5 separate regions of the Homo sapiens genome follow, and all the other regions are linked to region 1. Evidence: fine-mapped expression QTL. A gene starts in region 1. Each other region holds a variant in brackets. All regions are shown on one strand. Distances are between the middles of the regions. Region 1 holds the start of AIG1 (androgen induced 1). Region 2 overlaps LINC01277 (long intergenic non-protein coding RNA 1277). Region 3 overlaps PHACTR2 (phosphatase and actin regulator 2). Region 4 overlaps AIG1 (androgen induced 1). Region 5 overlaps LINC01277 (long intergenic non-protein coding RNA 1277).

Evidence for each region. PIP is the estimated chance that this variant, and not a neighbour inherited with it, causes the effect.
Region 2: its variant is fine-mapped to the expression of AIG1 in whole blood (TOPMed, PIP above 0.99).
Region 3: its variant is fine-mapped to the expression of AIG1 in spinal cord (GTEx, PIP 0.97).
Region 4: its variant is fine-mapped to the expression of AIG1 in whole blood (TOPMed, PIP above 0.99).
Region 5: its variant is fine-mapped to the expression of AIG1 in whole blood (TwinsUK, PIP 0.95).

Annotation. Positions count from the first base shown.
Region 1 is chr6:143,057,144-143,063,337 of GRCh38, forward strand. It overlaps AIG1 (androgen induced 1), which reads left to right and starts at 3,746. Exons shown (of 6, transcript NM_016108.4): 1 at 3,746-3,923. The coding sequence starts at 3,783. RefSeq lists enhancers at 2,742-3,680, 3,506-3,635, 4,236-4,285 and silencers at 3,636-3,725, 3,976-4,045.
Region 2 is chr6:143,028,894-143,035,087 of GRCh38, forward strand. All of the region lies in intron 1 of LINC01277 (long intergenic non-protein coding RNA 1277), which reads right to left. Among named protein-coding and RNA genes, the nearest start is that of LINC01277, 5.6 kb to the right of the region's middle. RefSeq lists an enhancer at 6,065-6,194. The variant T/C (reference allele first, on the strand shown) is at 3,460.
Region 3 is chr6:143,732,258-143,738,451 of GRCh38, forward strand. All of the region lies in intron 2 of PHACTR2 (phosphatase and actin regulator 2), which reads left to right. Among named protein-coding and RNA genes, the nearest start is that of PHACTR2, 57 kb to the left of the region's middle. The variant A/G (reference allele first, on the strand shown) is at 3,748.
Region 4 is chr6:143,234,809-143,241,002 of GRCh38, forward strand. All of the region lies in intron 3 of AIG1 (androgen induced 1), which reads left to right. Among named protein-coding and RNA genes, the nearest start is that of AIG1, 180 kb to the left of the region's middle. The variant G/C (reference allele first, on the strand shown) is at 3,151.
Region 5 is chr6:142,998,393-143,004,586 of GRCh38, forward strand. The region is part of intron 2 of LINC01277 (long intergenic non-protein coding RNA 1277); the gene reads right to left. Among named protein-coding and RNA genes, the nearest start is that of LINC01277, 36 kb to the right of the region's middle. RefSeq lists an enhancer at 4,346-5,545. The variant C/T (reference allele first, on the strand shown) is at 3,138.

The DNA.
Region 1 (6,194 bases):
GTTAGAAAATGCTTATCTCATGTAAATGCAGAACCAAAGGAAATGTGTAAATATCGAATACTGCAAGGATATGTATAAACACAATTCTTCCTCCTGAACTTTTAAGCAACGACCAATAGTTACATAAAGTTGGCTTCTTGGAATACAATTTAAGGGTGACATAGGAGTCCCAGTCATTTCCCAAATTAACAGGTATTATCATCAGTATGTCAGACAGACATCCTCCCTGATACGGTTTGGCTGTGTCCCCACCCAAATTTCATCTTGAATTGTAGCTCCCTTAATCTCCACGCATTGTAGGGGGGGAACTGGTGGGAGGTAATTGAATCATGGGGGCAGGTTTTCCTGTGCTGTTCTTGTGATAGTGAATAAGTCTCAGGAGATCTGATGGTTTTATAAAGGGCAGTTTCCTGCACACACTCTTTTGCCTGCCACCACGTAAGATGTGACTTTGCTCTTCCTTTATCTTCTGCCATGAGGGTGAAGCCTCCCCAGCCATGTGGAACTGTGAGTCCATTAAGACTCTTTTTCTCTATGAATTATCCAATCACAGGTATTTCTTCATAGCAGTATGAAAATGGACTAATACACCCCCCCTCCAAAAGAAAAAAAAGGAATGAACAGTCTGTCTCAATTATTAGAAGTACTTAAGAAAGGGTATCTTCAGCCCCATATATAGTCTAAGAAATATTACAACAATCAAAGAATATAGCTTGAAGCTAAAACGGGTTCTTGAAATCTTCCCTTGGTGTTTCTTATGTTTACTGCTATTGATGAAATTCAACTGGATGAGGCTTTTCTCCTCCAGTCTCACTAACTGTGTAGTAGAATGAAAAAGATAAAAAAAAAGACATGCAAATATTTCTTCTATACATAGAAAACAGTATTATCTAAATCAAATATGGAATCATCATAAGAATACTTAGAAGTGAATAATGTATTATAGTTCATAAAAAGTAATAACTTACCTAATGAAGTTTTAAAAGCAATTGTTTACGCTGTAAAAACACAATGTGTGTAGATTAATATTTTCCACAAAAGTTATCTGTAAAACATGACTAAGATTGTTAGATATGGTCTGAAAAGCACAGAAAGCAAGCCTGGACATGTTAATAGTTATCAAGAAGTTCCAAAAATTGTGAACTGACATTCTCATAAAATAGTATTTGAGTCAAGTTTTATACAAACGCTTCATTTTTTTAAAGCACAAAACTATCTGATCATGGTTGGCAAATCATGAAAAAACAAAAGCAAACCCAGCAGAATAGGTTCTAAATACTTAATTAAGAGTTATAGTTATTTATTTAAAAGAAACTGGTCGGGCGCAGTGACTCACACCTGTAATCCCAGCACTTTGGGAGGCCGAGGCAGGTGGATCATTTGAAGTCAGGAGTTCAAGACCAACCTGGCCAACATGGTGAAACCCCATCTCTACTAAAGATACAAAAAAAATTAGCCAGGTGTGGTGGCATGCGCCTGTAGTCCCAGCTACTTGGGAGGCTGAGGCAGGAGAATAGTTGAACCCAGGAGGCAGAGGTTGCAGTGAGCTGAGATCATGCCACTGCACTTCCGCCTGGGTGACAGAGCTAGACTCTGTCTCACAAAAAAACAAAAAGAAAAACAAAACAAAAAACCTGACCATTAAAAATGGCTTTATGAAAATATTATTTCATTTTGTAACAATGGGGTTGGGGAGTCTTAATAATTGTCTAACATGTAAAGTAGGAAGGGTATATCAAACTTTGCAAATATCACATTAACTCATAAAACTTTATTAAGGCTCTATTGAGAGGTGAGGCCAGCTGGACCTCCTGAGACAAGTGGGGACTTGGGGAACTTGCCTGTCTTACAAGAGGAGTGTAAAATGCACCAATCAGCGCTCTGTAAAAAGCACCAATCAGCACTCTGTAAAACACACTAATCAGCACTCTGTAAAACGCACCAATCAGCAAGATTTTAAAAGTAGCCAATCGCAGGGAGGACTGAAAAAAGGGCACTCTCATAGGACAGAAACAGAACACTGGAGAGGACAATAAGGGAATAAAAGCTGGCCACCCCAGCCAGCAGCAGCAACCCGCTCCAGTCCCCTTTCATGCTGTGGAAGCTTTGTCCTTTCACTCTTCACAATAAACCTTGCTATCGCTCACTCTGGGTCTGTGCCATCTTTAAGAGCTGTAACACTTACCACCAAGGTCTGCCGCTTCATTCTTGAAGTCACTGAGACCACTAATCTACCGGCAGGAACCAATTCCAGACACATTATTAAGGTAGGTAGATCTTCAATAGATCTACTCTTTTTTATTTTTATTTTTTTGGCAGTTTATAACCATGTACCAAGGATGCACAATTAAAAAAATAAAGCCAACTTTTACATTAAGATTTAACCAAAAATCATCAATAATACATCGTTTTAATGCTAGTAGAATCTTCTTCTGACATCAGTTCTATTAGCATAATTATAATGCCAATTAAAAAAATCTAGTGGGTCTCTTCATTTTAGTTTAGAGCTTGATTGGAAACATTCAGGAAAACATCCATGGCTTGCTTGCTACTTTCTCTTTACCTCTAGCACTATGCTTCTCCCCACCAGCCCTCCCTCCACATCCTCTGACTCAGAGACTATTTGAAGAGGACACCTGTTTTAAATGGATCCACAGGAAATACCTATGTTGCCTTTTCATAATCCGAACCTGCAACTGGTTGGCTGAAATGAAAATGTTGCCCACAGACTGATGCAACTTCAGTGTGACAACATTTACTGGAAGGCAGGAGGGACTCCAGTTTATATTTATTTTCCTTCCATTAAGCCCTGGTAGTGTAGTGTAAGAAAAAAGTAAGGGCAAAACCAGTTTAACAACCAGATGATTAGTATTAAATTACACGCAGGGGTTTTACATCCAAAATTGGAATTTTTTAAAGCTGAATGCAATCTTGTGGCAGAAAGTTATTTGAAAATCCTTTCTTTATAGCTTTTTATCTATAAACCTCTTGTCCAAAGTTCATATTCTAGCTGATGTTATATACTGATATGACATTATTCAATCTGTCATGGAAAAGTGCTGCGTAGCCTACCCATTGAAAGCAGAATTGAGAGAGTTTCCTAGTGATTGACAGTCGTTTGTCAACACTGAAAACCTTATTGCCCCAAAATACTGAAAGTCACTCGCGGCTGCCTGTGCTCGGGTTTACACCCCACGTTCACACCCCCACCGGATCCCTCCGCACGGGGCACCAGCTCTCGGCCAACTGCAACTACCCCAGGAAGCGTCACCGCGATTCCGGGGCGGGAACATTTGTGGACACTGGGGTCCACTCCTTCAGTCTAGGTTCCCCGCCCCCTCGCCCGGCCCGGCGCCCACTAGCCACAGGGCCCGCTTCCCCCTGGAGATCAGCGCGCACTTCCCGAGCCCTCGTAGCACTCAGAGGTCGCATCCACACCTGGGATGCCTAGGGGGCGCCTCCTGGCCGGGTGTCCCGGGACCCTGCGAACGCAGGAGCAGAATGACGAAGGTGACGAAAGAGATGACGACACGCCGCCTGCCAGGCCGCGGCCGGCAGTGGAGAGCGTCCGCAAACCGCGCCCGGCCAGTACAGGTCACCCGGGCGCTCGCGGCCGCGCCAGTCCCCGGGGGCGCGCGCCCCGCCCCCGCCCCCGCCCCCGCCCCGCCCCGCCCCGCGCCCGCGCCCGCGCCCGGGTTCCCACGGCGCCCGCCCCCGCGCGCCCGGCGCCTCCCTCACGCCCGCCCTCCTTGCCGCCCAGCCGGTCCAGGCCTCTGGCGAACATGGCGCTTGTCCCCTGCCAGGTGCTGCGGATGGCAATCCTGCTGTCTTACTGCTCTATCCTGTGTAACTACAAGGCCATCGAAATGCCCTCACACCAGACCTACGGAGGGAGCTGGAAATTCCTGACGTTCATTGATCTGGTAAGGCCGTCCCCTCCCCCTGCTCGCCCCGCACCCCGTGCCTGTGTGTGCGTGTGTGTGTGTGTGTGTGTGTGTGTGTGTGGATGCGCGAGCACCTGCGCACGTGCGCGCCTCCAGCATCCACCCGTGTCCTCGCCTCTTCCCCAGTGATTGCGTGTGAAGGCCTGGCTGCCCCCGCAGCGGCACCTTCTGAACCACTCACCGTTACCTGGTAGCTGGGTACCCTTACCTGGCAACTGGGGGACAAATGGAGGTGGGGCGCAGCCAGGTGGTGGGCTCTTTGGAGGGGGACACCGAACTGCTTCTAAGAGGTGACACGGGAAGAATCTTCAACAAAAGCATCGGACCTGATCCTGAATGGCCTGAGACCCATTCGCCCTCAAGGTGCTTTTCAGAGCACCCACCGTGGGATGAACTTGTTGCAACTGAAGGAAACTGGGTATTGTCTAGTGATTTGGAACTTCACCTGAAAGAACCAAATCCTTCTCATAAGGGAGAGAAAGCACCTAATAAAGTTGTCTTCTTTGCATCTGTTTTTTTCCCCCATTGTCAATAATTTACTTTCAACCTTTACCCCGTACATATTAGGAGACAGAGATGTTCAAAGTGCATTTCCAAGGTGACTGTACACACTTCTCTGTCTTCCCATGTACAAATTTACAGTAGTTTGCATAAGCAGCTCCTCTGTTGGCACAATATGATAATCTTGACAGGTGCAGGTTATTATTAGTATATCATTTTGAAAGTTTTTCTATTTCTGGCACTAAAAGGCCCTCTTCAACCTCCCTGGAGAACAGAACATGGGCATAAGGCCCAATAATGAACTCATGGATGGACCTAGGAATTTCAGGGTAAAGGTGACTAAGACACACGCTAAAAGATTATTAGGAAGAGGCTTAAAACAAAAGCAATGAAGTTCTAAAGCACTCAGAGAAATTGTAGAACCAATTCCTGGGACTCCCTGAACTGTTTATCCAAGACTATACAGTTGGTTGGCTACACCAGCAAGATTATAATCTCTTGTTGACCCTCCATTCTGATGAAGAGAACATGATACCTGTTTTAAAAATTTCCAAAGGCTTAGGATGCCTCAAAGAAATGCAGAGAGGCTTTTGGTTTAAAAATAACACCTTATATTTGCATTATATTAGATACTTTCAGAGTGGAATTTCAATTCTGTTGCCCAGCAGTCTCCAAACTGTGCACATACCCTTAGGCCCACAAGACTTCACAGGGTATAGAATGTTGCAAGGGTTTTAATTTTCAGATCCTCATCTTCCAACTCTGCTTGAAACTAATTTCCCTCTGAACATGCGTGATGCCTGCCAGTTCTCCTTTCATTCTCCCCATTCATCCAAGTGAGGAGCCCGTGACAAGACTCTGAGGTGTGCTTTTCTGTCTGTTCCTTTTAGCTTCCAGAAGATAGATGGTTGTCACCAGGGCTATCTTTATATTTGATTGAACAACAATGTCGGAGTTGCCTTGACAGAAAGTCTTATTGGGTTGATTGGCTTGTCAATGAGGATTGGCTTTGCCAATTATGTTGTGTAGCAGACATTTTCTGTATACTGAATGAGCTAAATCTGCAACCCTGAGGTTCTGATGCATATGTATATGAAGCAAGCATACCACCCATAGAGCGCCAGAAAGATGTCCCTTTTTCAAGTGTTTACACTTAACTATGTTAAGGATGTTGAGATGTTATTTAAAAATATGTGCATAGATTTTCAGAATTCTTTGAGGGGCTATGTGAGCAAAACTCCTTTTGGGACACTGCCTTATCCCATTCCTAAGTCAGATCTTACTTAGAGCTGGCCTATTTGAATGTTGCTAAAGAGCAGTGCTGGGCAAGAATACAGAGATGCTGTGGGAGCCATAGGTTCTAGAAACAGCCCTCAGCATCACTCTTGCAGTAGATGCTGTGTTGTGGGAGCAAGGCAGGGGTCAGCAGGTGAACAGAGGTAGAAATTGAGGGTGTTGGTTAACCCAAGAGATGCCTGCTTTTCATAATTAGCATTGCTTACTGTGCATTGAAAAACAAGGCTCAGAAGAAATGATATACCTCTCATAACCTTTGTGTGACATGAAACCATAGTAGAGTCAGCTTGATATGCTGTCATATAATTTATCTTTTAGCATTCAATGATTGGACTTGCCTGTTTTAAATACTAATCACCATACAGGACTTTTTCTATCCCAGAAGTCAGACAGTAGATTCAAATGTGAAACATTTACTTTGCTTCATATTTAGCTTCAGATTGTATAGGACCT
Region 2 (6,194 bases), 28 kb before region 1:
TCATTTATTTTAGTCTTTCTTTTGTGTTTAACTGAAAATCTTGCATCTTTCTTATTGGATTTATTTCTAGGTATGTTTATTAGCATTACTAATGAGTCTTGTTTCCCACTTCATTTTCTAACTTTTATTGATTTTTGGTATATTAATCTTGTATTAACTGCTTTCTCGTACTTTCTGTTGCTGTAGCAGACAGTTTTCTTGATTTTACTCCAAGGTAGTTATATAATTTTTGGTAAATAATCATACATTTTACAACCAATATATACTTTTTTCCTTTCCTTATATTCTTTTATTGTCCATAAGTTCCAGAATCTTGTTGAATAATAGAAGTATTAATAGAAAGCATTCTCTATTTTTTTTATATTATACTTTAAGTTCTGGGGTACATGTGCACCAAGTGCAGGTTTGTTACGTAGGTATACATGTGCCATGTTGGTGTGCTGCACCCATCAACCCGTCATTTATATTAGGTATTTTTCCTAATGCTATCCCTCCCCCAGTCCCCCACCCACCTACAGGCCCCAGTGTGTGATGAGCCCCTCCCTGTGTCCATGTGTTCTCATTGTTCAATTCCCACTTATGAGTGAGAACATGTGGTGCTTGGTTTTCTGTCCTTGTGATAGTTTGCTGAGAATGATGGTTTCCACTTTCATTCATGTCCCTGTAAAGAACATGAACTCATCTTTTTTATGGCTGCATAGTATTCCATGGTGTATATGTGCCACATTTTCTTTATCCAGTCTATTACTGATGGGCATTTGGGTTGGTTCCAAGTCTTTGCTATTGTGAATAGTGTCACAATAAACATACATGTGCTTGTGTCTCTATAGCAGCATAATTTATAATCCTTTGGGTATATACCCACTAATGGGATTGCTGGGTTAAATGGTATTTCTAGTTCTAGATCCTTGAGGAATCACCACACTGTCTTCCACAACGGTTGAACTAATTTACACTCCCACCAACAGTGTAAAAGCATTCCTATTTCTCCACATCCTCTCCAGCACCTGTTTTTTCCTGACTTTTTAATGATCACTATTCTAACTGGTGAGAGATTGTATCTCATTGTAGTTTTGATTTGCATTTCTCTAATGACCAGTGATGATGAGCATTTTTTCATAAGTCTGTTGGCTGCATAAATGTCTTCTTTTGAGAAGTGTCTGTTCATATCCTTTGCCCACTTTTCGATGGGGTTGTTTTTTTCTTATAAATTTGTTGAAGTTCTTTGCAGATTCTGGATATTAGCCCTTTGTCAGATGGATAGATTGCAAAAATTTTCTCCAATTCTGTAGGTTGCCTGTTCACTCTGCTAAGAGTTTCTTTTGCTGTGCAGAAGCTCTTTAGTATAATTAGATCCCATTTGTCAATTTTGGCTTTTGTTGCCATTGCTTTTGGTGTTTTAGTCATGAAGTCTTTGCCCATGCCTATGTCCTGAATGGTAATGCTTAGGTTTTCTTCTAGGGTTTTTATGGTTTTAGATCTTACATTTAAGTCTTTAATCCACCTTGAGTTAATTTTTGTATATGGTGTAAGGAAGGAATCCAGTTTCAGCTTTCTACATATGGCTAGCCAGTTTTCCCAGCACCATTTATTAAATAGGGAATCCTTTCCCCATTGCTTGTTTTCGTCAGGTTTGTCAAATATCAGATGGTTGTAGATGTGTGGCATTATTTCTGAGGCCTCTGATCTGTTCCATTGGTCTATATAACTGTTTTGGTACCAGTAACACGCTGTTTTGGTTACTGTAGACTTGTAGTACAGTTTGAAGTCAGGTAGTGTGATGCCTCCAGCTTTGTTCTTTTTGCTTAGAATTGTCTTGGCTATGCGGGCCCTTTTTTTTCCCATATGAAATTTAAAGTAGTTTTTTCCAATTCTGTGAAGGAAGTCAGTGGTAGCTTGATGGGGATAGCATTGAAGGTATAAATTACCTTGGGCAGTATGGCCATTTTCACAATATTGATTCTTCCTATCCATAAGCATGAAATGTTCTTGTATTTGTTTGTGTCCTCTTTTATTTCATTGAGCAGTGGTTTGTAGTTCTCCTTCACATCCCTTGTAAGTTGCATTCCTAGGTATTTTATTCTCTTTGTAGCAATTGTGAATGGGAGTTCATTCATTATTTCACTCTCTATTTGCTTGTAATTGGTGTATAGATATACTTGTGATTTTTGCACACTGATTTTGTATCCTGAGACACTGCTGAAGTTGCTTATCAGCTTAAGGAAATTTGGGATGAGATGATGGGGTTTTCTAAATATATAATCATGTCATCTGCAAACAGAGACAATTTGACTTCCTCTTTTCATAATTGAATACCCTTTATTTCTTTCTCTTGTCTGATTGCCCTGGCCAGAACTTCCAATACTATGCTGAATAGGAGTGGTGAGAGAGGGTATACTTGTCTTGTGCCAGCTTTCAAAGGGAATGCTTCCAGTTTTTGCCCATTCAGTATGATATTGGCTGTGGGTTTGTCATAAATAGCTCTTATTATTTTGAGGTATGTCCCATCAATACCTAGTTTATTGAGAGTTTTTATCATGAAGGGCTGTTGAATTTTGTCAAAGGTCTTTTCTGCATCTATTAAGATAAGCATGTGGGTTTTGTCGTTGGTTCTGTTTATGTGATGGATTACGTTTATTGATTTGCATGTGTTGAACCAGCCTTGCATCCCAGGGATGAAGCCAACTTGATCATGGTGGATAAGTTTTTGATGTGCTGCTGGATTCGGCTTGCCACTATTTTATTGAGGATTTTTGCATCGATGTTTATCAGGGATACTGACCTAAAATTCTTTTTTTGTTGTGTCTCTGCCAGTCTTTGGTATCAGGATGATGCTGGCCTCCTAAAATGAGTTAGGGAGGATTCCCTCTTTTTCTATTGATTGGGATAGTTTCAGAAGGAACGGTACCAGCTCCTCTTTGTACCTCTGGTACAATTTGGCTGTGAATCCATCTGGTCCTGGACTTTTTTTGGTTGGTAGGCTATTAATTATTGCCTCATTTCAGAACTTGCTATTGGTCTATTCAGAGATACGACTTCTTCCTGGTTTAGTCTTGGGAGGGTGTATGTGTCCATGAATGTATCCATTTCTTCTAGATTTTCTAGTTTATTTGCATAGAGGTGTTTATAGTATTTTCTGATAGTAGTTTGTATTTCTGTGGGATTGGTGGTGATATCCCCTTTATCATTTTTTATTACGTCTATTTGATTCTTCTCTTTCTTCCTTATTAGTCTTTCTAGCAGTCCATGAATTTTGTTGATCTTCTCAAAAAACCAGATCCTGGGTTCATTGATTTTTTTGAAGGTTTTTTTTTTTGAGTCTCTATCTCCTTCGGTTCTGCTCTGATCTTAGTTATTTCTTGTCTTCTGCTAGCTTTTCAATTTGTTTGCTCTTGCTTCTCTAGTTCTTTTAATTGTGATGTTAGAGTGTTGATTTTAGATATTTCCTACTTTCTCTTG[T/C]TGGCATTTAGTGCTATAAATTTCCCTCTAACCACTGCTTTAAATGTGTCTAGAGAATCTGGTACGTTGTGTCTTCATTCTCAATGGTTTCAAAGAACATCTTTATTTCTGCCATCATTTCATTAGTTACCCAGTAGTCATTCAGGAGCAAGTTGTTCAGTTTCCATGTAGTTGAGTGGTTTTGAGTGAGTTTCTTAATCCTGAATTCTAATTTGATTGCACTGTGGTCTGAGAGACAGTTTGTTGTGATTTCTGTTATTTCCATTTGCTGAGGAGTGTTTTACTTCCAAACACTTCTCCTGGTCCATTTTAGAATAAGTGCGATGTGGTGCTGAGAAGAATGTATATTTTGTTGATTTGGGGTGGAGTGTTCTGTAGAAGTCTATTAGGTCTGCTTGGTCCAGAGCTGAGTTCAAGTCCTGGATATCCTTGTTAATTTTCTGTCTTGTTGATCTGTCTAATATTAACAATGGGGTGTTAAAGTCTCCCACTATTATTGTGTGGGAGTCACAGTCTCTTTGTAGGTCTCTAAGTACTTGCTTTATGAATCTGGGTGCTCCTGTATTGGGTGCATATATATTTAGGATAGTTAGCTCTTCTTGTTGAATTGATCCCTTTACCATTATGTAATGGCCTTCTTTGTCTCTTTTGATCTTTGTTGGTTTAAAGTCTGTTTTATCTTTGTTATTGTGAATAGTGCCACAAGTTGATGTGTGCAGCAAACCAAAATGGCACATGTATACTTATGTATCAAACCTGCATTTTGTGCACATGTACCGTAGAACTTAAAGTATAATAATACAAAAAAGTCTGTTTTATCACAGACAAGGATTGCAACCCCTGCTTTTTTTTGCTTTCCATTTACTTGGTAGATCTTCCTCCATCCCTTTATTTTGAGCCTATTTGTGTCTTTGCACACGAGATGGGTCTCCTGAATACAGCACACTGATGGGTCTTGACTCTTTATCCAATTTGCCAGTCTGTGTCTTTTAATTGGGGCATTTAGCACATTTACATTTAAGGTCAATATTATTATGTGTGAATTTGATCCTGTCATTATGATGCTAGCTGGTTATTTTGCCCGTTCGTTCATGCAGTTTCTTCATAGCATCAGTGGACTTCACTATTTGGCATGTTTTTGCAGTGGCTGGTACCCGTTGTTCCTTTCCACATTTAGTGCTTCCTTCAGGAGCTCTTGTAAGGCAGGCCTGGTGGTGACAAAATCTCTCAGCATTTGCTTGTCTATAAAGGATTTTATTTCTCCTTCCCTTGTGAAGCTTAGTTTGGCTGGATATGAAATTCTGCGCTGAAAATTCTTTCCTTTAAGAATGTTGAATATTGGCCCCCACTCTCTTCTGGCTTGTAGGGTGTCTGCCAAGAGATCCACTGTTAGTCTGATGGGCTTCCCTTTGTGGGTAACCTAACCTTTCTCTTTGGCTGCCCTTAACATTTTTTCCTTCATTTCAACCTTGGTGAATCTGATGATTATATGACTTGGGGTTGCTTTTCTCAAGGAATATCTTTGTGGTATTCTTTGTATTTCCTGAATTTGAATCTTGGCCTGTCTTGCTAGGTTGGGAAAGTTTTCCTAGATAATATCCTGAAGAGTGTTTTCTAACTTGGTTCCATTCTCCCCGTCACTTTCCGGTACACCAATCAAATGTAGATTTGGTCTTTTCACATAGTCCCATATTTCTTGGGGGCTTTATTCATTTCTTTTCATTCTTTTTTCTCTAATCTTGTCTTCTCACTTTATTTCATTAATTTGATCTTCAATCACTGATATCCTTTCTTCCATTTGATCTAATCAGCTATTGAAGCTTGTGTATGCTTCATGAAGTTCTCGTGCTGTTTTTTTCAGCTCCCTCAGGTAATTTATGTTTTTCTCTACACTAGTTATTCTTATTCTAGTTAGCCATGCCTCTAACCTTTTTTCAAGGTTCTTAGCTTCCTTGCAATGGGTCAGAACATGCTCCTTTCGCTCGGAGAAGTTTGTTATTACCCACCTTCTGAACCCTACTTCTGTCAATGCATCAAACTCATTCTCCGTCCAGTTTTGTTCCCTTACTGGCGAGGAGTTGTGATCCTTTGGAGGAGAAGAGGCTTTCTGGTTCTTGGAATTTTTAGCCTTTCTGCTCTGGTTTCTCCCCATCTTTGTGGTTTTATCTACCTTTGGTCTTTTATCTACCTTTGGTCTTGATGTTGGTTTTGGTGTGGATGTCCTTTTTGTTGATGTTGATGCTATTCCTTTCTGTTTCTTGGTTTTCCTTCTAACAGTCAGGTCCCTCAGTTTCAGATCTGTTGGAGTTTGCTGGAGGTCCACTCCAGACCCTGTTCGCCTGGGTATCACCAGTGGAGGCTGCAGAACAGCAAATATTGCTGCCTGATCCTTCCTCTGGAAGCTTTGTCCCAGAGGGGCACCCACCAGATGCCAGCAAGAGCTCTCCTTAATGAGGTGTCTCTCAGCCCCTACTGGGAAGTGTCTCCCAGGCAGGCTACATGAGGGTCAGGGACCCACTTAAGGAGGCAGTCCATCCATTATCAGAGCTCGACCACCATGCTGGGTGAGCCACTGCTCTTTTCAGAGGTGTCAGCCAGGGACATTTAAGTCTGGAGAAGCTGTGCCCACAGTTGCCCCTTCCCCCACGTGCTCTGTCCCAGAGGGACGAGGGTTTTATCTGTAACTCCCTGACTGGGGCTGCTGCCTTTTGTTCAGATATGCCGTGCCCACAGAG
Region 3 (6,194 bases), 680 kb after region 1:
TAGAAAGAAATCCCATACTCATTAGCAGTCATTCCCCATTTCACCAGTCTCCCAGCTCTACTTTCTATCTCTGCGGGTTTGCCTATTCTTGATATCTCATACAGATGGAATCATACAATACATATGTGGTCTTTTATGACTGATATCTTTCACTTAGCAAGCTTTCATTGGTCATCTATGTTGTAGCGTGTATCAGTACATCATTTCATTATCAAATACCAAACATTCCATTGTATGAATATACCACATTTTATTTATTCATCAGTTGCTGGACGTTGGGTTTCTTTCTATTGGCGGCTATTATGAATAATGTTGCTGTGTGCATTTGTATATAAGTTTTTGTGTACATATATGTTTTCACTTCTCTTGGTTTCATTTCTCTTGGTTATATACCTAGAAATGGAATTGCTTAGTCATGTGGTAATTCAATGTTTAACATTTTGAGGAACTGCCAAACTGTTTTTCAATGCAGCCACACCATTTTATATTCCTACTAGCAGTGTATGAGCATTCTAATTTCTCTACACTCCAGCCAACATTTATTACTACCTGTCTTTTTTTATTATTGCTATCCTGGTGGGTATAAAGTAGCTCCACCCAGCACTTTTGATTACTCCTTGTCTTTTCTTTTCTGATTTATTTATTTATTTGAGACAGGGTCTTGCTCATTCACCCATGCTGGAGTGCAGTGGTGTGATCATTTCTACTGCAGCCTCTAACTCCTGGGCTCAAAGCAATCCTCCTGCCTCAGCCTCCCAAGTTGCTAGGACCAAAGGCATGCACCACAACACCCAACTTAATTTTAAAAAAAAATTTTTTTTCATAGAGATGGAGGCTTGCTCAGCTGCCCAGGCTGGGTGTCCAACTGGCTTCAAGTGATTGTCCTACCTTGACCTCCCAAAGTGCTGGGATTATAGATGTGAGCCACCATGCCTAGCCTGATTCCTCCTCTTTTTCTACCTTACTTTTTTCATTTTCCATAGCACATTTTACCGTCTAACATCTATAAATTATTTCTATTGTTTGTTATCTGACCCCACTTCCTAGTAGATTATAAATTCCATGAGAACAGGGATTTTTGTTTTCTTCTTTGGTGAGATCTCAAAGAAACTTGTATAGTGCCTGGCTTATGTTAAACATTCAGTAAATGTATATTGAATGAACGAATGAATGAATGAATGGCTCTTGATGGACCTTATCCCATCCTATATATGGAGCATTTGCAAGTGAATCTTTTCGATTTGGAAAGTGCTGGATTTGGGGTGAGGGGTAGGGAATGACTGCTTGTTTTCAATCCTTCTTTAGTGTTCATACCACTGAGAGTTGCTTAAAACAGCCTCAAGAAACCCTGAAAAGCCATAACAGACTAAATGAATATTTTACCAATTTAGTGGGTAGGGTGGGGAGCTATTCTCTCATGAATGGATAATGACCTTAAGTAACTGTGACTGCTCTGTATGGCAGCATTGCAAAGGTCAATGTGGGAACATCTTTCTCAGAAAGGAAGTGTGGTGGGGGTTGTATTTTAATTCAACCATTTGTGTTCTTGTGTATTTCACAACAAAACCTAATGAGACCAAATGAGTGCTAGAAATTCTGTGGGCAAGAGATATTATATAATAATTTTATTACGTATGCTTTTAAAAAATATCGTCTATTATTTTCCTAAAGGTATATAATTGTGTTAAAACAGATTTCCTCTATGTGCTCTAAATATAAAGGAGACTAATTATTTCTCCCCTTTTCTTCTCCCAGTAGAATGGATTTTTTTTCTTGGTTCAATCTTTTTATACATAGGTGGATGGAAAGACTCATTATGGCCCATCTTTTTATTTATGGAGCATTTATTATTCATTATAGGTCTATTCTAGTGGTAAAACCCATTTATGGGAAAGAGTAATAGAATATGAGTGCTAACTTTTTGTGCATTTGTCATAATTGAAGTTAGTGGTTTTATAAATATGGGATGCTTCCACCATGGGTTTAGAATAGCCCAGCTGCACAATAAATGGCCTAACCATCAGGTCCTACCTCTTACAGATCGATAAAACCATGAAATCTTTTTTTCTAAATGGAGTTGAGGAGTCTCCCTTGCTTCCTGTACATTCTGGAAAAAGTGGGATATTGTGTTTAATCCAAGCCGAGCTCTGGATTTAAATGGGTTGCACCATAGACCTGACTAGTATCTCAAGTCTCCCGTCTTTTCCAGGGGGAGTTAGGTTTTTCTAGTGAATTCAGATAAGCAAGGCATTTTCACTGAGCATTCTGTGAAAGCATTCTCAAATGAGACATGGATGCTACTGATTTTGCTGATTTCTGATTACAAATGACACATTTTAAAAATCACACACATAGAATGAATTGCAGAATTGTTAACTTGCTTTCCCTTTTTTTTCCATCACATTTGATTGCTAAGGGGGATGTGGAGAAAAGGAGCACTGTTCCCACCCACATCTTAATTAAATAAGGCCTCCATTGGGTTGAGACAAAGTGGGTTTGTATTGCTTTAAGAGAAGATCCGATTGTTTATATCCCTTGCTTGGGTGGATAATTTCCTAATTTCATTTTCCTTTGGAGTGGTGCCACTTTAAACACTTTTAAAGGTACTACAGAAGCCCTTCTGGCCTGGGTCAGAGAATTCATGTCAGGAAAGTCCATTATTTTATTTCCTTTGCATATTATTTCCCTTTGTGGTTTTGTTTTGTCTTTTTCATCCTGTGATATGAATCTGGTCCTTATCACTGAGGGCTAAGTCCTGGAAAGTGACTGTTTTTTGGCTTACATATTTTCCTGATTTATTTCTCACTTAGAATATAAGATGCAATCTTAATTTTTACTTCTTTTGTGTTAGGTGTTTGCTCACCTAGGCTTATAACACTTTTTGTCCGAAGGTTTCTCCAACTGATTCCCAAGCCTAGACTGTAAGTTTTGAAATTGGTACTCATGAAGTTTCCTTTATTCCAAAGTATAAGTGTTTACTTAGTACCCATAAGACAGGGCGTAAGAGGCTATATACAAAAATACAAGATAATAAAAAAACATGATTGGAAAGAAGACTAGATATTAGAAAATTATTAGAAAACTGATTATGCATTATCGTGATGAAAATTCTTTCTTGTCTGTTTTTCATTTCAGCATTTATAGAAATCTATAGTCCTAAAATATTTTACAATTTGATTTTATTTTAAAATCCATAATGTAAATTTACCATCTTAGCCATTTTAGGTTTACGGTTCAGTAGTGTTAAGTATATTCACATCGTTGTGCAACAGACCTCCCGAACTTTTTCATCTTGCAAAATGAAAACTCTGTGCCCATTCAACAACTTCCCATCCCCCCACCCCACCACTTACCCTCTGTAATGTTTTTTTAAAAAAACTTCAGATGAATCAAATGCAAAACATTATTGACACCAATGAAAGTTTAATCACCTGTGTTAAGTAAGACAGTGACATATTGCTGGCATTCCGTCATCTTTTCTTTTTGCTGAGTTTTTCATTTCAATTCAATGCTAAAAAGTTCAAATTAGTTACTACCCCATGAGGCTTGAAAATGTTCCCTTTGGATAATTTGGGTAATTTCTATATGTGTAGCATTGTGAAGTAAAGTAGTTTTTCCTAAAAAAATTAAAGTTTAAAAAATGTATTTCTGTTACTCATTTGAAGTTTCATTTAGGATTAAACTTAATATAGGAAAAAGATATGTGGGTATTAATAATAATGATAACTAACTCATTGAGTATTTACT[A/G]TGTGTCAGGCACTCTTTTAATTAATTATTAATAAATTTTTATAGACACGTTCTCTCTCTGTCACCCAGGTGGGAGTGCAATGGCACAATCATAACTCACCTTAACCTCTAACTCCTGGGTACAAGCGATCCTCCTGCCTCATCCAGATAATTTTTTAATTTTTTGTCGAAATGGAGTCTCACTATGTTGCTCAGCCTGTGATACTATTTTAAATGCCTGCAATCTTCTCAGTTACCCTATGATGCAGGTTACTATTATAATCTCACTTTTACTCCTGAGTAAACTAGCGAGGCACAGAAAAGTTAGGTAATCACCCTAAGTTCCAGGCCTTATGCAAAGCATAGCCAGTATTTAATCCTCAGAACCCTGCCTTGAGTTTGCATTCTTAATCCCTATACTATGCTGCCTTCTAGGTCAATAAGCATGTCAAATGAAAATATTGGTGGATTATTATCAAGGAATATGCAAATGTATACAGGAGAAATGGAAAGTAGAGGAGAAAAAAACTCCTATTTCTTTGGTCTGTAATTTATGCCAAACCCTTTACAATTTTTTTTTTTTTTTTTTTTTTTTTTTTTTTTTTTTTTGAGACGGAGCCTTGCTCTGTCACCCAGGCTGGAGTGCAGTGGCAAGATCTCGGCTCACTGCAAGCCCCGCCTCCCAGGTTCAAGCCATTCTCCTGCCTGAGCCTCGGAGTAGCTGGGACTACAGGCACCCGCCACCATGCCCGGCTAATTTTTTTGTATTTTTAATAGAGACGGGGTTTTACTGTGTTAGCCAGGATGGTCTCGATCTCCTGACCTCGTGATCCGCCCGCCTCGGCCTCCCAAAGTGCTGGGATTACTGGCGTGAGCCAACACGTCCGGCCTACAAGATATTTTAATCATCCTAACGTCTATTCATGCTAGGTTTTAGTGCCTGTGTTTTCACATGTGGAAATAAAGGCTCAGAGAAGTTGGGGAGTTTGCCTGTGTTCACCTACCAATAACTTGCAGGGTCTGGATTTGAACACAAAGGTATATTCTTAAGAGGACTGGAATACATCCTATATAAAAGTATTCTATTATATAGAGTCTATTATATATAATGTAATATAACATCGTGAACTTCTATATAAATATTATATAGGAATGATATTTATTTTATACCTTTCTGTAAATATTATACAGGAAACAATATAGGACAAGAATACTTCTACACATAACATATTCTAGACCTCTTAAGAATTATATATATTATATATATGTCTATGTAGTATATAGCAGTCTATTCTTTTTAAATTAAATTAAATTTTATTTATTATTATTTTTTAGAGTGATGGTGTCTCACTGTATTGCCCAGGGTGGTCTCGAACTCTGGGCTCAAGTGATCCTCCTGTCTCGGCCTCTCAAAGCTTTGGGATTACAGGCATGAGCTGCCACACCCAGCCCAGTCTATTCTAACCTATTGTATGAAATATTCTATTATATATAGTATGTATTAAGATAAATATATTCTTCCTTCTACATTTCATAGCCTTTCAGTCTTCAAGAAGGATGAGACCCTGATATTACCCAAATAATCACAATATTTGAAACACAGAGTGGCAAGGAGGGATTATTGAAAAGAGCATAATGTCTAAGTACAAACTTAGCTTTGCTATCAAACCTTAAGTGTTACAGTTTCAGCTACAGTGAAAAGTTACCTTTCCCCAAACTGCATTTTTGTGTTTATCTTAGAAAATAAAAACTTCAGTTGAAACTACCCATTTTCCTATCACTGCAGGGTTGGGCAGGAATCAGGTGTAGTTTATCTTTCCTGCTTTAGTTTAGGCCTGGACCAGTTTTGCCAAAGGAATACTGTTCTTTACAAATACTGTGCTCTCTGTTGTGTAGGCAAGATGGTAGGTAGTGGACAGAATGTGAAGAATGCTCCAGAAAATAAACTTTTTAATCATCTTAAGAAACCTGGTCTGATTGGATATGTAAAATGAAAGTAATAAACATGGATTTGGGGAAATTCCTACTCAAATCTTCTTACAACTTAGACTGGTTATCCCCACCTACCTGAGTTGGTGTTGTTTTAATATGTATTGTTCATGGCTCAACTCAATAAAAAATAGGCTTTTAAAGATTATACATTTTTGGCCAGGCGCTGTGGCCCACGCCTGTAATCCTAGCACTTTGGGAGTCCTAGGCAGGCGGATCACAAGGTCAGGAGTTCGAAACCAGTGGGGGGCGCCTGTAATCCCAGCTACTCAGGAGGCTGAGGCAGGAGAATCGCTTGACCCGGGAGGCAGAGGTTGCAGTGAGCCGAGATTGTGACACTGCACTCCAGCCTGGGCGACAGAGGGAGACTCCATCTCAAAACAAAACAAAACAAAAGATTATACATTTTTTTTCATGACCCCCCTGAAAAGATCAACCTAAAATATAAAGAATTTCAGCCACCTTTACCCCAGGGCAAT
Region 4 (6,194 bases), 180 kb after region 1:
CTTGGACCTTTAATTTAGAAAGTGGCCTTTCATGACTCATGGTGGATATCCCATGATACATAACATGAGCAAACGCTACTTGGGAGATGAGGATGAAATGAACTCCAATCAGATTGTCTTGGAATGTGGCAAAGGGATTATTCCCTCTGAGTTAAATGCACTTCCCTTCCTGGGGCGGGGGTGGAGAGGCCTAATCATTACTACATAGCCCTGCATGCATGCATGTATTTATTCATTCATTCATCTGTCATTCATTGAAGGCCCACTGAAAGTTAGATGATGTGGTAGGAGGTAGGGATTTAAAGATGAACAACAGATGACAAGCTGAAATTCTAGTGGCAGAGTGGAAAATGGTGACATACAACCTAAGGTGGTAGGCTATGCCCCGGGTGCTGTGGAAACTCAGAAGACAGGATTTTTCATCAAATGAGATGCTTTGAGGACTTTATTCCATGCAAGTTTTTTTTTTCCTAAATAGAATTTAGTATTTCCTTTCATCATTGCTGGTCTCTGTGAGGACATACGTGTTTCTGTAACACTGGAAGAAGGAAAAACATCTGAAATTTGTATAGATACCTTTTCGCTTTGTGGCATGTGGTCATATTTTATAGAATAATGGCAGGGAAGGTATGTGGGAAATGTACATATCTACAGGACTTTTCTGACCTGAAGCTAAACCTGTGCATGAGAAGGGGAGTACATCAAAGAAGCTTCTGGAATGGAAAATGGTGGCCTTTTTCTGCTAAATGCCTCCCTGGCATGCCATGTTCCCAGGCTCCCCATCTCACTCTCTTCTCCCCTGATTCATTTGTAGGGGAAGAAGAAAAGTCTAGGTTCCTGGCTGAGGCCCCTATAACAAAGATAAATAAACAACAGAAAAGGATACCGTTGTATTTAGGTTTTACGTGACATGGATGCCTTCCTAAGGTAAAGGAAGACCTGAAGAAACAGGGAAACCATGTATTTTTTATGCTAGGTTTAACACAGAAGTGGATAGTTATGAAGTATAATTGGACTAAAAAGTGTGATCTACTGATAATAAACTGGAGGAAATCCTGTTTTTTCCAATTCTTCTCTTCAAAGATAAAGATGCTTCTTTCCTCTGGATCTAGGGAGGGCACCTCTCCAATGAGGGTCTCCCAAGCTTTGCTTCAAAGAAGGTAGGGCAGGGAAGGGAGGAGATGAGAAGACCTTCCTACTTCTGCCATTTTCCCAAATTCCTTCAGCTTAAAATATTTTCGGGTATATATACTGAACCCCATCACATTTTTATTTTCTTGTATTTAATAAGCCCCAAAAATGTGAGGTTTTATTTGACCAGGATATCTGGTTTCTGTTTCCTTTAATCCTGGGAAGCCTTCTTGGGCCTTACGAGTTGTGCCAGTTCTCATGAGTTGAGCGCATACGGCTGGTGTCCCTCCTGGTGACCTTCGCAGCCATCTGGGCTGGGGCCTGTGTCTGTCCGGCTCAGCCCAGCGGGGCAGGGCCTCTGCCGTGAGTTTGCAGATGCCTCATTCGGACTCCGAGTCTGTGACTCACGCCATCTGTTGGTAATTTGTCGTTGTTCTGGAGTCAGGAGTTTTCAAAGGATTCAGTCTTTGGTGTCCCTTCACAGGTGCACTGCCTGTGATTTTCTGACACCCTCTTGCCATCCGGCCTATGGCCAGAGCCCAGCACTGAGTCAAGCTACTGTGGATATAATGATGTTGTTCTTTGCACTTTAGAGAGCTTCACACCAAGTTCCTGCCCCCTTCTGAGCGAGTCACACTCTTTATGGGACTTGTTTGAAGTCCAGCCAAGCTGGCAACCGTGGGGTTCCACTTTTACAACCTCTAGCAACAGTAGGCTCCAGTCCTTTGTGTCACCGTGCCATCTGCTTAGCTTTTTTCCTCTTCAAACTGTAAGCAAAATGAGCTACCTAAACCAAAAAACGCCACCCCCCAACTAAAACACATTTGCATCAAGTCAACCTAAATGACACTGCTTTGTTTGCTCTAAACCACATGTATAAAAGAATTTCCATACTTCCTTAAGAAATTTTTTTCACCAAAAAAATAGACAACCATAGTAGCAATTATATTTTTTCTACACACCAGGCACTGTGCTACATGTTTTATGTTCATGATTCCATTTTATTCTCACAGAAACCCAGTGAAGGAGGTATTATCACTATCTTGGTTTTTTTGCATGTAAGGAAATTGGGGCTCAGACAAGTTAAATAACTTACAATGAGTATGCTACCGGTAAGCAAGGCATCTAAATCTAAACCCCACTGCCTGGCTCTACAGCACAAGAGTTTAACTGTTTTGTATACTGCACCCACTCCTTGATATTAATAATCTAATGCATTGAAGTTCAATGCCTTTAATTAATTTTTCAGTCCTTAAACATAGTGTCACACATCCATTAGCAATCCCCATCTATCTATCCAACAGATATTTTTGAGCATCTACTGTGTGCCATGTACCATGCTGGACCCTTGTCTCTTGAAGCTTATAATGTAGTTGAGGCTACAATTTATTCTATAATGTCTCATGAAGAAGTCTTGTCTCATGAAGCTTATAATGTAGTTGAGGCTACAATTTATTCATTTAATAAACCTTTATAAGGAACATACGGTATGCAGGCATTATGCTAGGGACTGGGGCTATGAAGTCAAGAAAGATACCATCTCTCTCAACTAATATATGATAAACTCACGATTAAACTTGAAATCAGAAAAGCAGGATATTTAGTATGTATTACCAATATTTAGTATGCATGTCCTGGCCAAATCATTGAACTTCTCTCTCCCCTAGTTTCTTCACCTATTCAGTAGATAACATGTAAGGTTACCACCAACTTTGGAAAAACAATTTCTACTCTAACCGAACCTAGCTTTGAAGTAACTTTTCTATTAGAAATGTAGGAGAAGAGAAAAGAGCTGAGTCTGGGTTCATGAGAGAAGCAGGAAAAAGAAATTATGAAGTATATCAGCCAGGAAGCTTTTGGCTACAAGTGAGAGAAAACATGACCAAAAGCTTGAAAACGTAGAAGTCTGTTTTCTCCCATAAAAAGAAGTCAAAGGGTAAGTGTTTCTGGTGTTACTTCCATTGCTCAACAGTGTCACCAAAGACCCATTTTATTTATTTATTTATTTTTTATTTTTTT[G/C]AGATGGAATCTCACTCTGTCACCTAGGCTGGAGTGCAGTGGCACGATCTCAGCTCACTGCAACCTTTGCCTCCTGGTTTCAAGCCATTCTCCTGCATCAGCCTCCCGAGTAACTGGGACTACAGGCGCCTACCACCATGCCTGGCTAATTTTTGTATTTTTAGTAGAGACGGGGTTTCACCATGTTGGCCAGGCTGGTCTCGAACTCCTGACCTCAGGTGGTCTGCCCACCTCGGGCTCCCAAAGTCCTGGGATTACAGGCGTGAGCCACCGCACCCGGCCCCATTTTGTTTTCAGGCTTCCTATCACCACCCTTAGTGTTGGCCTTTTGTGCTCAAAGTTATGGTCTCCTGTCCACAAAATGGCTCCTGTTGTGCCCAGAATTATTTTCTCATAACAACAACCCAGGCAGAAAGGAATCCATTATAGAGAAAGACTTTCTTCATACTATGGCATTTGTTTTTGTTTTAGTTTTCACTCTAGAAAGGGAGCCCTCCCCCAGCCAACTTTTCCTTTTATCTCATTGGCTACAACTGGGTCATATGTTGAGCCTAAGCCAATCATAACTTGTCCTTTGGGTCTGGGGGAGGGGTTCTGCATTCTCTGAGGTCATGGGATCTCTACCAGCTTAAAAAAAAATTATGTTTCATTTGAAAGGAAGAAAGTGAATAGACAATTAACAGTGTCTGTCATAGAGTTGGTTGGAAGCAGACACGCTAGCAATGGCCATTTGGCCCTAGAAAAGCTGGAATGTTTGAAGGAACTGTAATGAGTGGGAATGCCTAACAAGTAAATGCTAGAAAAGATAGATCCTGGAGCAAAACCTTTATTATCTAAAAAGATTTTGTCCCTAAAAGGGAAAAGTAGGGGATAAGATTGCCACTAAGAGACTCCTATAAAATCTGTATGACTAGCTTGTATTTGAAATGGAAGAGAACCAGTTACAACTTCCCTTTCATCTTGAATCCAGACACTGTAGACATAATTACCAGGATAGATTGACACTGGGGCAGCCTAAAAGAACCTCAGTCATCCAAAAGTCTTTATTGAACTGGCCACCATGAAACAAAGATGACTAAGACACAGTCCACTCATGGCAGAATTTTTAGGTATTGATGAATTTCCAGCTGTAATTGCAGCATAATACGTGCTTTGCCAAGGGTGTGCACAGAGTACAGTTGGAGCACTGGGGAGAGACTGGCAACACTGCTTGGAGTGGGGCAGGTGGTGATGAGGGGAGGATGTATAGCGGAAATGACATTTGGTGTGGCCCCTGAAGGAATAAAAGAGGCATTCAGAATTGAAATGTAAGAAAAGGGCAATCAAGTCCAGTGGAATCTCGTAACAGAAGTGAAAGTCCTCTGAATATTTCTGAGCAGATATTAATGGGAAAACCTTCACGACCCACAGAACCCATGCTAACACTGCCACTCAGAAATCTTGTGCTCACTTCCTTTGTTGGGTGAGACTGTGGCTGTGGCTTCAGAACGAGGAGATGGTGGATGCTTGTATCTGGCTGCTTGTTGATGAGCTGAGGCGCCACCACTGGCTGGAACAGCAGCCCCTGAAGAATGTAGGAAGGACCATGTGTTCTATCTCCCACCTCTTTCACCACACGATCTTGTTTCCCTCTCATCTTCCTGCTTCCACATCCATGTTTATAAGTCTACCTTACTCAGTAAACTTCTCCCCCTTCACATTAAGACATGTGTTATTGCATCTTGGTCTTTCCTGTGCCGTATCACAAGACCTGACCCATGGCCCGTGTTCAAAATGTGGATTTTGGACAATTGGATGATCAAATAAATGAAGTGAGAAGTTGGGCAGAGGGTGGCCTATGTGTTGGCCACATGGACAATTAGAACTCATCTCATATTCTCCTGGCTTCATTATATTAACCGTATCTGGCTCAGGATGTTTACCTGACTGGAACTTGTGAAATGTGGCAACAGGCAGAAAAGCAGAGGCCAAATAGCTCCCTGTAATTAGATGTATTTAACACTAGAGGTTCCAGGTAGAATTTCACTATTACCTAAAGCCCATCTAAAATGGACAAAGAGAATAAATGAACCAAGAGCAAACATTTATTGAAACCAATTATGAAAGAGAGTATGACATAGGCGATGAAGGAACAGACTCTTCAGCCAGACCTCCTGGGTTTAAATCTCAGCTGCATTGCTTCCTGGCTGTTTTACTTTGGGCAAGTCACTTAACCCCTCTATGCCTCAGTTTCCTCATCTACAGAATAGGAATGAAAATAGTGAATGCCTCTAAGGATTGTTGTAAGGGTGAAATGAGTATAGGTGGTGTAGTTTCATATTACAATAGGCCCTGGCGAATACAGAATACTGTACAAGTGCTGACTACTTGAGTTTCAGAACAACCCTAGAAATTAAGTATAACTTTTATATGTTACATATGATGAAAGTTTAGCTTGGAGAAGTTACATGTGGCAAGTCTATTGATCTTAACATGGCAAGATAATAGCTGGGATTTTCTATAAGGATTTTCTCAATTTCTACATAAAACATATAAACCACAGCCACCCTGTTCTGCCTAGGATAATGAAGTTATGACATCATAGACCGAGCACATCATCCAATCTTTGCTCCTTCCCTCTGGACCAATGGCTAGTGGAATTTTCCCAACAATTAAAGCTATCACTGGTAAGGGAGCATTTGTTTGGGTTTGGGGTTTTTGATTTTTAAAAAATTTCCAATCTGTCATGAACCAAAATCTGTACCAAATATAATAAAAAATTACTAGAAAAATAAATTTTTTAAAAAACCAGACAATATTCAGGGCCAACATTTTTTATTGGATTCAATGGGAAAGTGGCTTTAAAAATCCTTCAAGTGCTTACTCTCAATTCCCGTACTTATCTTTCTGTGAATTTATACCAATGGCCGGCCACCAGTCTGCAGACCATACTCTATGAGTATCTGACTTAAAGGACTTCCATGAAGAGTTAGTTACTCCTCAGATGGAAATGATACACATTCCCGTTTGCTCTTAGCTTGTGGAGAAGTTCTCAGATTTCTATA
Region 5 (6,194 bases), 59 kb before region 1:
CAATGAGAACACATGGACACAGGGAGGGGAACATCACACACAAGGGCCTGTTGGGGTGTGTAGGGAGAGTATTAGGACAAATACCTAATGCATGCAGGGCTTAAAACGTAGATGATGGGTTGACGGGTACAGCAAACCACCATGGCATATGTATACCTATGTTACAAACCTGCACGTTCTGCATATAAATCCCAGAACTTAACGTATAATAAATAAAATTTATTTTATTTTAATTATTTATTTATTATACTTTAAGTTCCAGGGTACATGTGCACAATGTGCAGGTTTGTTACATATGTATACATGTGCCATGTTGGTGTGCTGCACCCATTAACTCATCATTTACATTAGGTATATCTCCTAATGCTATCCATCCTCCCTCCCCCCACACCACTACAGGCCCCAGTGTGTGATGTTCCCCACCCTATGTCCAAGTGTTCTCATTGTTCAACTCCCACCTACGAGTGAGAACATGCAGTGTTTGGTTTTCTGTCCTTGTGATAGTTTGCTCAGAATGATGGTTTCCAGCTTCATCCACATCCCTACAAAAGACATGAACTCATCCTTTTTTATGGCTGCATAGTATTCCATGGTGTATATGTGCCACATTTTCTTAATCCAGTCTATCATTGATGGACATTCGGGTTGGTTCCAAGTCTTTGCTATTGTGAATAGTGCTGCAATAAACATACGTGTGCATGTGTCTTTATAGCAGCATGATTTATAATCCTTTAGGTATATACACAGTAATGGGATGGCTGGGTCAAATGGTATTTCTAGTTCTAGATCCTTGAGGAAACACCACACTGTCTTCCACAATAGTTGAACTAATTTACACTCCCACCAACAGTGTAAAAGCGTTCCTATTTCTCCACATCCTCTCCAGCATCTGTTGTTTCCTGACTTTTTAATGATCAGCATTCTAAGTGGTGAGAAATGGTATCTCATTGTGGTTTTGATTTGCATGTCTCTAATGACCAGGGATGATGAGCTTTTTTTCACATGTTTGTTGGCTGCATAAATGTTTTCTTTTGAAAAGTGTCTGTTCATATCCTTCGCCCACTTTTTGATGTGGTTTTTTTTTTCTCATAAATTTGTTTAAGTTCTTTGTAGCTTCTGCATATTAGCCCTTTGTCAAATGGATAGATTGCAAAAATTTTCTCCCATTCTGTAGGTTGCCTGAGTGATCAGGCACCTCTCCTAGCTTCTGACAGCTGCTGGTCAATCTCAGCATTCCTTGGCTTGTGGATGCATCTCTCCAATCTCTGCTTTATCATCATGTCACCTCTTTCCTTTTCTCTTATAATGACATTTGTCATTGGATTTAGGGCCCATTATAATTGAGTATGACCTCATCTAGAGATCTTTAACTTTACATGTGCAAAGACACTTTTTGCAAGTAAGTCACATTCACAGGTTCCCAGTGGGCATATCTTTTGTAGGGCACCACTCATCATGGGACAGATATGTAGTAAAATGTTCCAATGGAAAAATATTTGAAGGATGTTATTTTGGAAGATAATTTTTTTGATGTACTTTAAAAACAAATTAGCGGCCAGGTGCTGTGGCTTATGCCTATAATCCCAGCACTCTGAGAGGCCGAGGCGGGCTGTTCACAAGGTCAGGAGATTGAGACCATCCTGAATAACACGGTGAAATCCCGTCTCTACTAAAAATACAAAAAAATTAGCCGGGCATGGTGGCAGGCACCTGTAGTCCCAGCTACTCAGGAGGCTGAGGCAGGAGAATGGCGTGAACTCAGGAGGCGGAGCTTGCAGTGAGCCGAGATCATGCCACTGCACTCCAGCCTGGGTGACAGAGTGAGACTCCATCTCAAAAAAATGACACAAAATAAAATAAAATAAAATAAAATAAAATAAAATAAAATAAAATAAATTAGCATGCATTATTTCCCCAAAACCAATCGGAAAAATAGACTTGTTAGTTTGCTGAGGTGTAAGGAATTGGCATTTTTAAGTGCCATTGATAGAACTGTAGATTGGTAGAGCCTTTCAGATAGCAATTTGGCAGTTCTGTTTCTAGGAATTTATACTACAGAAGTATGTGCGTCTTTACCCAAAGATATATGCCCAATCATGCTCATTATAGCATTGTTTGTGATAGCAAAAATATTTTTTAAAAAAGTATTTTTTGTGTCTTTTTCTCCTAGGAGAAGTTTCCTTATGGACCTGGTGCAAAAGTAGACATACAATTCTAAATTATGTGATCATTAAAAATTAGGAGAGAGAAAGTTTTTTGTATATTGACAAGGATAAAAAGCCATAATATGCTGCTAAATAAAAATAGCAAGTTAAAAAACATTATTTATAGTGTGATCTCATTTTACAATCAGTATTTTTATACACTGAGGAAAAAAAATGAAAAGGATGTACGCAGCAATTATCTTTGAGTGATGGGACTACAGAACTTTCATTCTTGCTTTATACATTTCTAGATTGAGTAGGAACATTTCACAATGAGCATCTATCATTTCTATTATAAGGGAGAAAACAATGAAGATTTTTTTTAAAAAAAAAAAAGAAAGACAAATTCTACAGAGAGTGGCATTGTTCCAGGGCTGGGTCTCGGGCCAAGCTTTAGACTCCGCTGCAAAGCAGTGGACAGGACCTCCCTCAGCGGGGCTTGTGAATAGCATGATTGACACTTTCTGCCTGGCCTGGGCTTTCATGCATCTGGCCTGGGTCAGCTGGGAACTCCCTCAAAATTTCCACCAAGGGGCCTCTCCACCTTTTGTACAGTGTTGACCATTTCTTCATTTTCTGTAAAGCCAGAGAGCCAAGAATGCTATTAGCTATGGAGGACTTCAAGCTCCAATCAGCTCATACTTCTCAGCTGTACGACTTTGAGTAAGTTATTTAACTGCCCTAGCCTGCCTACCTCAAGGGTTGATTTTGGAGATGAAGTTTAAAAAATACATAAAATTATTTCATGGACATCGCAACATAGTAAGTACACATAAATGTCAATTCACACCCACCACCTCTTCTACCACTTCTTTCTTCTTGTCCACATTCCTGGGCAGGTAGTGGGTAATTTTCAACAGTGGTTCTCAATGAGAGCTCTATCATCCCCTTGGTGGCAGTTTTAAAATGGGGAAGAGCACATGTTTTGGTTGT[C/T]GCCATGATAAAGAAGCTACTGGCTTTGTCTAGATCTTTGGCAGGTTCCAGGAATGCCAGATGTCCTACAATACATGAGACAGTTCCAGAGAATAAAGAATTGCTTTGTATCCCACGTAACTTTTCACTGACCCACAAGATATCTGTATAAGTTAAAAACCTGTTTATGCGGGGCCAGGCGCAATGGCTCACGCCTGTAATCCCAGCACTTTGGTAGGCCGAGGTGAGTGGATCACAAGGTCAAGAGATCGAGACCAGCCTGGCCAACATGGTGAAACCCCATCTCTACTAAAAACACAAAAATTAGCTGGGCGTGGTGGCAGGCACCTGTAATCCCAGTTACTGGAGAGGGTGAGGCAGAAGAATCGCTTCAACCTGGGAGGTGGAAGCTGCAGTGAGCTGAGATGGTGCCACTGCACTCCAGCCTGGCGATAGAGCGAGACTCTATATCAAAAAAAAAACAAAACAAAACCTGTTTATGTGATTTGAACCTGGAAGCTAATTTCATTTCATATAACAACATTGCATTTCCCAAGGAGAATATTGTATTTGTTTTGTTTTGATTTTACCACATTTTTTGAAAATCATATTTTTTATTATTATTATACTTTGAGTTTTAGGGTACACGTGCACAACATGCAAGTTTGTTACATATGTATACATGTGCCATGTTGGTGTGCTGCACCCATTAACTTGTCATTTAACATTAGGTATATCTCCTAATGCTATCTCTCCCCCCTCCCCCCACCCCGAAAATCATATTCTGATAGCAACACTACTTATGCAATTTTTGCCTCGAAATAAAACACACTTCTTGTATCAAAACATCCCATTGTATCCCATAAATATGTACAATTATTATGTGTCAATTAAAAATAAAAATTAAAAAATTTCCACCTCTAACCATCTGCCTCTGCAGCTGTCACAAGTTGGTTTGGTGCATAGGTGCAATCACCTGACAATATTCTTATTCCTCTGGAATACTCATTCTTAAACATTTATATAATGAAATCCATACTAATCTATTATAAATTACTTTTCTCTTATTTCTCTTTATACTAGTTTGTGCATTATATTGATTTTTTTGAAGTGATGTGTAGGTAGATCATATTATCCATCATTTTTATTTCAGAATCATAAAAGAAGTATTACAAACTATTTATTACCAAAAGAGAACATGATAAGATCAAGGACTGGTCTAGAAGATCATAAAGTTTTTCAATTGCAGCAAAAACCCAGAGGGGAATGTATTAGTTCGTTTTCATGCTGCTGATAAAGACGTACCCAAAATTGGGAACAAAAAGAGGTTTCATTGGACTTACAGTTCCACATGGCTGGCGAGGCCTCAGAATCATGGCAGGAGGCCAAAGGCACTTCTTCTATGATGGCAGCAAGTGAAGAATGAGAGAAGCAAAAGCGGAAATCCTTCAGATCCCGTGAGACTTATTCACTATCACGATAATAGCACAGGAAAGACCGGCCCCCATGAATCAATTACCTCCCCCTGGGTCCCTCCCACAACACTTGAGAATTCTGGGAGATACAATTCAAGTCAAGATTTGGTGGTGACACAGCCAAACCATATCAAGAATCATTTCTCCTGTGAAGTAGGGTGGGTTCAACAATTGCATGTTTTCAATTGTAGAATAGTGACATTGGCAAAAATTCCAGCATTTCCGGATCCTAGGTTCAAGATAACAGCCAACATCTGTCCATCTGGAGCCAGAACCAAGGAGGCAACAGGGCCCAGAATGAATCTTATGAGAAAAGGTCCTTAGCTCAGAAGGAGAGATCAAGTAATTAGTTTGTCCTTTCTAGTTTGCCAGACCAGAAGGCAGGAGATATATCATGAGCCTGTAGAAGAAGCGAAGGTCAAGAAGCCAGAGAGGCAAGTCCACTGAGGAGGGGCAGGGGTGGGGACAATTGTTGCTGGTGGTTAACAAAGTAGTTAGTTGGACAAGGGGTAAGGTAAAGAATGCGGAACAGGTTTAGCCTCAGCATCATTTTAATATGTGGGTTGGGACTCCTAGATCTGTGTCCTTCTACCAAACACTGAATATTTGTTGCATGATTTCTTAAAGGTGCCATCCAGCATCTGAAAAATAAGGAATGAAGTCATCTGATTTCCTCAAGTTTCTTTGCTAGTGGGCCAAAAGGTGGATAAAAAATATTGAAAATTGCCAACGAATAAATCATTATTTGTAGTTTGGAATACTTCGTGTTACTTTTATTTTAGTTTATATCTACTAGTGATGGAAAATCTGTTTTCACGATTCACAGAGAACACCAACGCAGAATGAGCTATGGTAACGGTGGTCTAGTTTCCACAGTTTTCCAAATTATGAGGAAGTGAATGATTGCCAAGACCTCCTAACAGGCTCCAGACTACAGAGAGTTTGCAGAAGTAAAATGACAACAACAGCGGCAAAAATAAAAGACAGAGTGGATAATTTGAAAACATTACGTCCATAGTCTAGTTTATTTTAAATCCAAACAAAATTGAAAGCAAGATTTGCTTAGGATAATGTGCAAAATGGATGCACTGTATCCAAAGAATAAAGCACTATTCTATTAGAGTGAGGAACTATATTTGGAAAAGAGTAGTGTTAAAAATAACCCTAAAGGAGGAAGTCAGAAAGGAATCAGAAAGACATTTTACACAGATCAGAAGTGAAGGGTTATCAAAGATAGAAGTCCTAAGACAGCGTATAAGTGTTCTAAAATATTTAGTCTAAGACACATTTAGACAACCTCCTACATCAGGAGTACCCACCTTGTCACTCACCAGACCTATCATCTTAAGAATTATATTATATGCGGTTCGTGCAAAAGTAATTGCTGTTTTGCCATTACTTTTAATATAATATATGTAACATTATATTTATCTATATTTATTATGTATTCATACATACATATTCATAATGATAGATATAGATAAAGGTAGAAAAAGAGATATATTCACTTATAAAAGTAAATCTTGCTACATGTTATTTTTTTTAAATAAATAAATAAAATTAAATCTTTCCAACCTAGGCTATGTTGGGGTGTAACTGGTGT